Homo sapiens: one gene and its partner. The protein of the gene in region 2 interacts with the protein of the main gene of each other region in a pairwise test. Each region holds a gene or a part of one and is shown on either strand. Other genes may lie near its edges.

Region 1 (3,500 bases), on a different chromosome or scaffold from region 2:
TCACTTGGTGAGCTGTTCTGTGCTCTGGCTTTCCTCTGGCCCATAGGAGGGGACAGTGCCTGCCGCCAGGCCCTGTGATAGCGGATCTTCATGGTCAGCTTGTGCAAGGGTTGTTTTTTATTTAATTTTCTTTGACAGGGGAGATGACAAAAGAAATTGGGCAAAAATGGTCTTTAAAAAAAAGTCATCAGCCGGGTGCAGTGGCTCATGCCTGTAGTCCCAGCATTTTGAGAGGCCAAGACATGCAGATCACTTGAGGTCAGGAGTTCGAGACCAGCCTGGCTAACACGGTGAAACCCCGTAAAAGTACAAAAATTAGCCAGGCGTGGTGGCGTGCACCTGTAGTCCCAGCTATTCGGGAGGCTGAGACAGGAGAATCACTTGAACCTGGGAGGCAGAGGTTGCAGTGAGCTGAGATCGTGTCATTGCACTCCAGCCTGGGTGACAGTGAGACTTCATCTCAAAAAAAAAAAAAAAATCAAGTTTGAGAAATAACATTTTAAAAAATATTGACTTGGCTAATTCATTGACTTGTCTCCTTGTTCTCCTCTCAGAATACCTCTGAAAACTTGCAAACCCTGTAACCCACAATGAACGCAGTAATTTCATCTAAGTAGTAACCTGGGCACTGAGGGGGTGGGGAATCTAGCTCATTATTTAACATTTATTAAGTATGCTGTGTCCTAAACATTATGTGAAGCATATTAAAGGCAAAATGCCTGATCTCACTGAACTATGCTTTTTATGTATTTATATTCTGTCTTTAATTGGAGATTTCAAAGTATGTTAGACAGTGGACTAGATTCCTGTTGTATTAACTCTTTTAAAAGGGAGACCGAAATCTCACACAGTCACAGAGGACAAGACTCTGTTTTCTTGCTTTTTCACCGACTTTGATGCTCTTGGATGAAAAGTCCTGTATGAATACAAAGATTATCAAAGTCATAATTTGAATATTGGGTGCAATAAAGCCCAGGCTGTAAATACATCTGCAGGCTGCTTCATTGGGTACATTATAATTTTCTCTCTGGCGTTATTTGCACTTCGTCAAATTAGTACAGAAATTCCTTGATTTGGGGACTTACCCAGGATTTAAATCTGCTGTTTCAACTCCTGCCAGTAGTATGAGAAATCTGAACATGACATATCTAATTTACTTTCAGCCTTTCAGTGGGATCTACCTGAATAACAAGGAAGCAGGAATGTATCATTGCGTGTGCTGCGACAGTCCACTCTTCAGGTAAGATAAAGAATTGAGAGCCACGGAAGGAGACCAAACCTCCAGGTTCTTACTGCTTTGTTTCATTTGAGATCTTGGATAAATAAATACCCATAATACCCATTTTGTTTTTTAAATTGCTCTTCTCATTTTGCATTGTTGCTGTAAGGAGAGCTATTCATATAAGATACTTGCCTGTCTTGACTTTTTTTTCTAGCATTTAGAGCCATTAACAAGACTTCTTAGCTTATATTCTTCCTTTCTCTATCCTCAAGAAATAGCAAGGAAATAAAACTCAGTGGGCCCCTTATGATAAAGCTATTAGAGTTTTTTTTTTTTTAGAGGGAAAGTATTTAAAGAAATCTAAACCGTGATTATATTTGCTGGGCCATGTGATTAAAACTCTCTCCCAGGGAAAATGGGTTTATAATTTAATTTAGGAAATGTAGAATTTTATGAGGATAGATTCCCCACAATGCTTGACAGTAGCGAATACCATACCCTCTTCTATATAGCTAAAAGTAAACTTATTTGTCCCTTGATTTCAAAGCCTCTTTTAAGTCAATCAGGATCTGAAATCTCTCAACAAAGGCTTTTTTGTTTAGACATGCAGGAAACAGTCTTAAAAAAAAGTAGATTCGATGGAGAAGAAAGGAAAACATCTTTGAAGTCCTATTTTTCAGAACTTCAAAGATGTTTTCCTTTCTTTTGCATCAACCCTAAATTGGTTTAGAATAAAATATAAATCAAGCCAGCTCTGTGCATTGCCCATTAGGCAGTGCTTCCTTCTGTCCTCTGGGCTTTGAGCAGTCTGGGCCTTCCTGCCCGGCTGGCTGCTAATGTGGGCTGCCTTAGGAAGCCGGACCCGCCTGCAAGGATGAGGAGCGATTAGCATCGATTTTCCTCCGTGCTCACAGATGGGCAGGCCTTTGCCCGGATGCATTCACGTTGGCATGGGGGAAACTAGAAGGAGGTTAATTTTTGCACAGTAAAATGTGGGACTCAGGTTTCTGAGACAATAGTTATTTCTTGACCTTTGGTTGTGTTAAAGAGGAGAGGTAGGATTTTGAGATGGCCCATGAGCTTTCAGCCATAGAACCATGCTGCCAGCGTGTCAAGGGCTCCCTTGTTACCGCAGGCACCAGGCAGTGCTCTGTCTCCCTCTTTGCACTGTGAATACAGAAGATAAATCATCCTCGCAAGAGCATTCTCTTAAATCACAGTCTTCACTCTTCCCCTTCCTTGATGTTCCGGTTTCTGCATCTGAAAAAGGGGGGGACTTCTTCCCTTCCTTTCACCTTGCAGGCTTAGTTGTGGTGTCAGAATACTGGAGCCAGGAGGGTCCTGAGTCCAGAGCAGAAAGCTCTGTCCAGTAGAACTTCCTGTGGTGATGGAGATGTCTGTATCTGGCCATGTGGTAGCTGCTCATCACATAAGCTTGTTAAGCACTCAAGGTGTGGCTAGCATGGCTGAGAAGCTGACTTTTTCAATTTAATTTTAATTAATTTAAACTTAAATTTAATTTTAATTAATTTAAACTTAAATTTAATTTTAATTAATTTAAACTTAAATTTAATTTTAATTAATTTAAACTTAAATTTAATTTTAATTAATTTAAACTTTAATTTTAATTAATTTAAACTTAAATGTAATTTTAATTAATTTAAACTTAAAAGGCCACATGTGGCCAGAGGCTACTATATTAGCACAATGCTAGTTCAAATTAAGGAAGTTAAGTGACCAACTCCAGGTCCTGGAGGTTGTGAAGCAGCCAAGACTAATAGGAAAACCAGCCGATTCTCCAAAAGCCCATTGACCAAGTGGCCAGTTTATGAGACTGCCAATTCACTAACTTTATTTGTTTTTGTGTAACCATTTAGTTTGAGCTGAAAAGTTTCCATTTTGCATTCTTAAAGACTTCTGAGTTTGTTTCTCTTCCCCTTTCCTGTTGCTGCTACTGCAGCTGAAGGAAATAATATATTCCTGAAGATTATTTATGTTCCAGAATATACTATTCTTAAAGATGCACTCATTTATGGGAGAGGCAGTAGAATGGTTAAGATTGCCAAGGTGTATATCCTGGCTCCATTGCTGTGTGACCTTGAGCAAATTTCTTAACCTTTCTGTGTCTGATTTCCTCACCTGTAAAATGAAGATAATAGTACCTAATTCATAAGGTTGTTGGGAGGATAATCTGAGTCATGAATTAATACATGGAAAAGCATAGAGCAATGCCTGACATGACTGACTCAGGCCAGGCACTTGATGCAAGTTAGTAATG
Region 2 (3,500 bases):
GTGACCTTCAGGGGAGAGAATGGGTCTAGCAAAGAAGATGAAGGATGAGCAGAACCCTCATCCATGGCACTCTCCCCCTTTCCATGACAGACATGCCAGGTCCCTTTATGGGTTCCATGCCTAAAAATAGATGTTGACTCAACAGATAAAATGATGTGAGTGACTAATCTGCCTCCCTGGCCTCCTCCTGCTGATGGAGTGAGGCAGCTGCCTTCAGTATCTCCATCTTCTAGAAACTCACGGGTGGGCTGGGAGGCCTCTGTGGGCTCCTTCTCAGCACATGGCTGAGATGTAGAGGGGCCTTTATATAGGGGGTCCCAGTGTGTGCATTTGCAGTGTGGGCTGAAGGACTAAGAACCCCATGTGACTGTCTGGACAGGGCTTCACTCCACAGAAGGTTCTCCCACCCCTGTTCTTTAAGGGACAAAGTGTGTCAATAGCAGAACTATTTTTTGAGTAAGAGGAAGAAGTGGAAGAAGGAAATAAAAACATCATAGTGATATGCCCATGGCAATGAGGGTCACCCTTGTTTCACCTTGCCAATTACTGACAAATTAATTATCCGAATGACATTTGTGCTCCCTCAAAACACAACCTACCACCTTTATACCTTTGCTCATACAGACATTTTTTTTATACCTACTTCCTCAAGTCCAAATCCTACTCCTCTTCAGGGCTCAGATCAAATGACATCTTCTCTAGGCAGCTTTCTCTAATCTCACCTTCTCCTAAAAATCTCCCCAGCAGTGTTCTCAATGAACCATGGTACTTAACCCGTTTCAACCTTAACTGACCACCTCTCCATCTAGGCTGATGATCTCTTTAGGTTGTAGGTCTTGTGTGTGTGTGTGTCCTATTCAACTCTGTGACTCTAGCTCCCAGCACATAGCCTGATACCTATAAAGTGTTCAACACCTACTGAAAAAATGAATAAACACCCACAGCTCATGAGAAATGATGTTGATATTATTGGCTCTTTGGAGTTAACTGTAACTCCAGTAAGGTGGACCACTGAGAGTCAGGCACCCAGAATCCCAGCTGTGTTTCTCCACCAAGCTAAGAGCTAAGGGACATATTTCCCATTTTCCAATGCCTGGGGCTGGAAGGACTGAAAGAAGATTGTTCTAGGACTAGACCTCACATAGAGGCCTTCTCTTAGCAAATATTTCCTGAGGATCTACTATGAGCCAGGTACAGTGGTATGTGTTGGCAACACAGCAAGAACAAGGCATAGTCTCTTGCTGTAAAGGAACTCCAAGTCCAAAGAGGGCAACAGACAACACATAAGAGGCACTCAATAAAATGTGTTGAACAAAAGAATGGATGAGTAAACATACAGACCAATTATCACAGTGCCACAAGATGTGTGTGTTATGCCAGGGATACATATGAGTGTGACTAAAACACAGAGGAGGGAGAGATTAATCAAAGGTTAAAAGGGCCGGGAAGGAGACACAGCTGAGCTGAGACTGGTGGTGAGAAAGGTGGTGGTGGAGTCAGGTAATGGTGGCCTGATAATAGCCTTCCTCTGTCACGAGGACAAATGAGGTGATGAAGATCAAGGGCTTAGCACAGTACCTGGCACCCAATAAATGCATAATGGATAGTCATGACCTTAACTCCCATTAGTTCTGCACAGCCAGAGCTAGGGTACAGAGGGAACAGGGTGAACCCTGCCAGGGAAGAGGAGCTGGCACTTGAAAGTTGGTGACACAACAAAAACCATTTCCCCAAAAGTTGATTCCAACATAGGTAGAATCTCAGCTAGGGAGAATTACTGCAACACATCTCCAGAGACAGACCCTAAATCCCCAAAGGCAGCAACAAATCCCAAAGGTGAACAGCACATCAATCATTCTCTACCAAGTCTAATTCCTGTTTAGTATTTCTCACCTATATGGAACCTTAAGTCTATTGTTCTCTCAGTTTCCTGTCCATGAAACCTGTGGCGTATGGATAAACAAAAATGACAGAAAAAAGATCTTCCTGCATTGAATATCCAAATGTTCATCCTAGTACCTAAAATTTTCAACTTTCCATATACATGTATTAAATTCTAACTGAATGACTACAGTGGTCAGGCCCTTGGTTAGGCTGAAAGATTTCCAAAAAATTGCCAATTTTCAGGGTCAGCATTGATGGCATATTAATGCCCCTGGGCCAGTGGCCTGGAGTCACAGGGCTTCCAACACTGGAGCCAGCGCCCTGGAGAACCCCCCTTGCCTCAGTCAGGATCCTGTTTGCTTCATTCATCCAGAATCTCTGAAGACAAGACTGGCATCTCTAGGCCAGCACTGACCTCCTTCTGGAACTCAGAAAGGGCTGGGAGTGAAGAAGCCACTCCTCTCTCTGGGTAGGGGTGGCTCAAAGCCAGGTGACTGTAAGCAGCTGACTTTACAGATGATCTCTATGGAAGATCTGAAGTCCCTCCAAGCTCCTCAGCTCTCCCCATCCCTGGTGCTCACAGTCTTCCCATCCTCCACCAGAAGGATGCTATAGCATCATGCTTATGATCCCTGACTGTGGGTCAGCTCCAGTACTCACTAGCTGCATGACCTTAGGCAAGTAATTTGATCTTGATAAGTCTCAACATCTTTGCTCGTAAAAAGGGGGTCAATTATCCTTTGATGGGTTATTGTAAGAACTGAGTTGATATATTTGTCTAGCACATACCTAGAACTTAGTAGATACTTACACATATTATTATGTGATGAGTCATACAGGCTTTTGTGGGCCAGCCTGGGAATCTAGCTCCCATTGGGACATACCCTCCAATTTCACCGGAAAAAAACCCCCAAAAAACAAACAAAAAAAACATGTGGAACACTACCAGGGAATGCCTGTAGAGGCACTGCCCTCCTCTGCCACCCTGGTGGGGTCTGGACCATCTTTTACCACTTTACTGACATGAATGTCCTCTAACACATTTCCACAGATCCCACTGCTTTATGCCGACAAAGTACTTTCCACTTTCCAAAGTGACTTCCCAATTCTGCTCTCAGCAAGTCTCACCAAGGTGGGTAAAGCAGGCGTTGTCATTCATCACAGATGGGGCATCAGGACGAGGGCTGAGGGCTGCCTCTTCCCATGCAGCACCCACAACTCCCTTTACCTGTTCATACACAGGGCTTGGCCTGGGCAGGGTGGGAAGAACAGCATGACCTGAGGAAGAATGTTCCCTGAATCATCCAGCAATACCTCACTCCTTGTCTGTCCTCCATAATACAGAAAAGGGAGAGGACATGGAAAACACGATAAAGGCATGTTGGGTGCAATGAGGAGGATAAAATGAGAGGGAAAAGGCATCCTTTTTAGCCCCAGAAAATTGCTCCTTTAGAAAAACACTGGCATTAGAAGATGGGAGTTCATTCATTCCTCCCCTTCCTAAACATCTACTATGTGCCAGGCCCTGGGATGGGTGTTGGGAATGTCTCTGCTTCACGAATCCCAGTCTGGAAAGGAAAGTAAACAAATGAAGCATGCAATACAGAGGGCTGCTT

The links. The genes of interacting proteins can lie anywhere in the genome.
Region 1: the proteins of ELAVL4 (region 2) and MSRB2 interact in binary tests that used the Homo sapiens proteins (3 or more experiments, as listed by UniProt).

The regions. Positions count from the first base shown.
Region 1 is NC_000010.11:23,109,079-23,112,578, forward strand, and holds part of MSRB2 (methionine-R-sulfoxide reductase B2, mitochondrial precursor), read left to right. Parts: intron 1-1,163; coding exon 1,164-1,240; intron 1,241-3,500. UniProt on the Homo sapiens protein: Methionine-sulfoxide reductase that specifically reduces methionine (R)-sulfoxide back to methionine.
Region 2 is NC_000001.11:50,188,920-50,192,419, reverse strand, and holds part of ELAVL4 (ELAV-like protein 4), read right to left. Parts: intron 1-3,500. UniProt on the Homo sapiens protein: RNA-binding protein that is involved in the post-transcriptional regulation of mRNAs. Plays a role in the regulation of mRNA stability, alternative splicing and translation.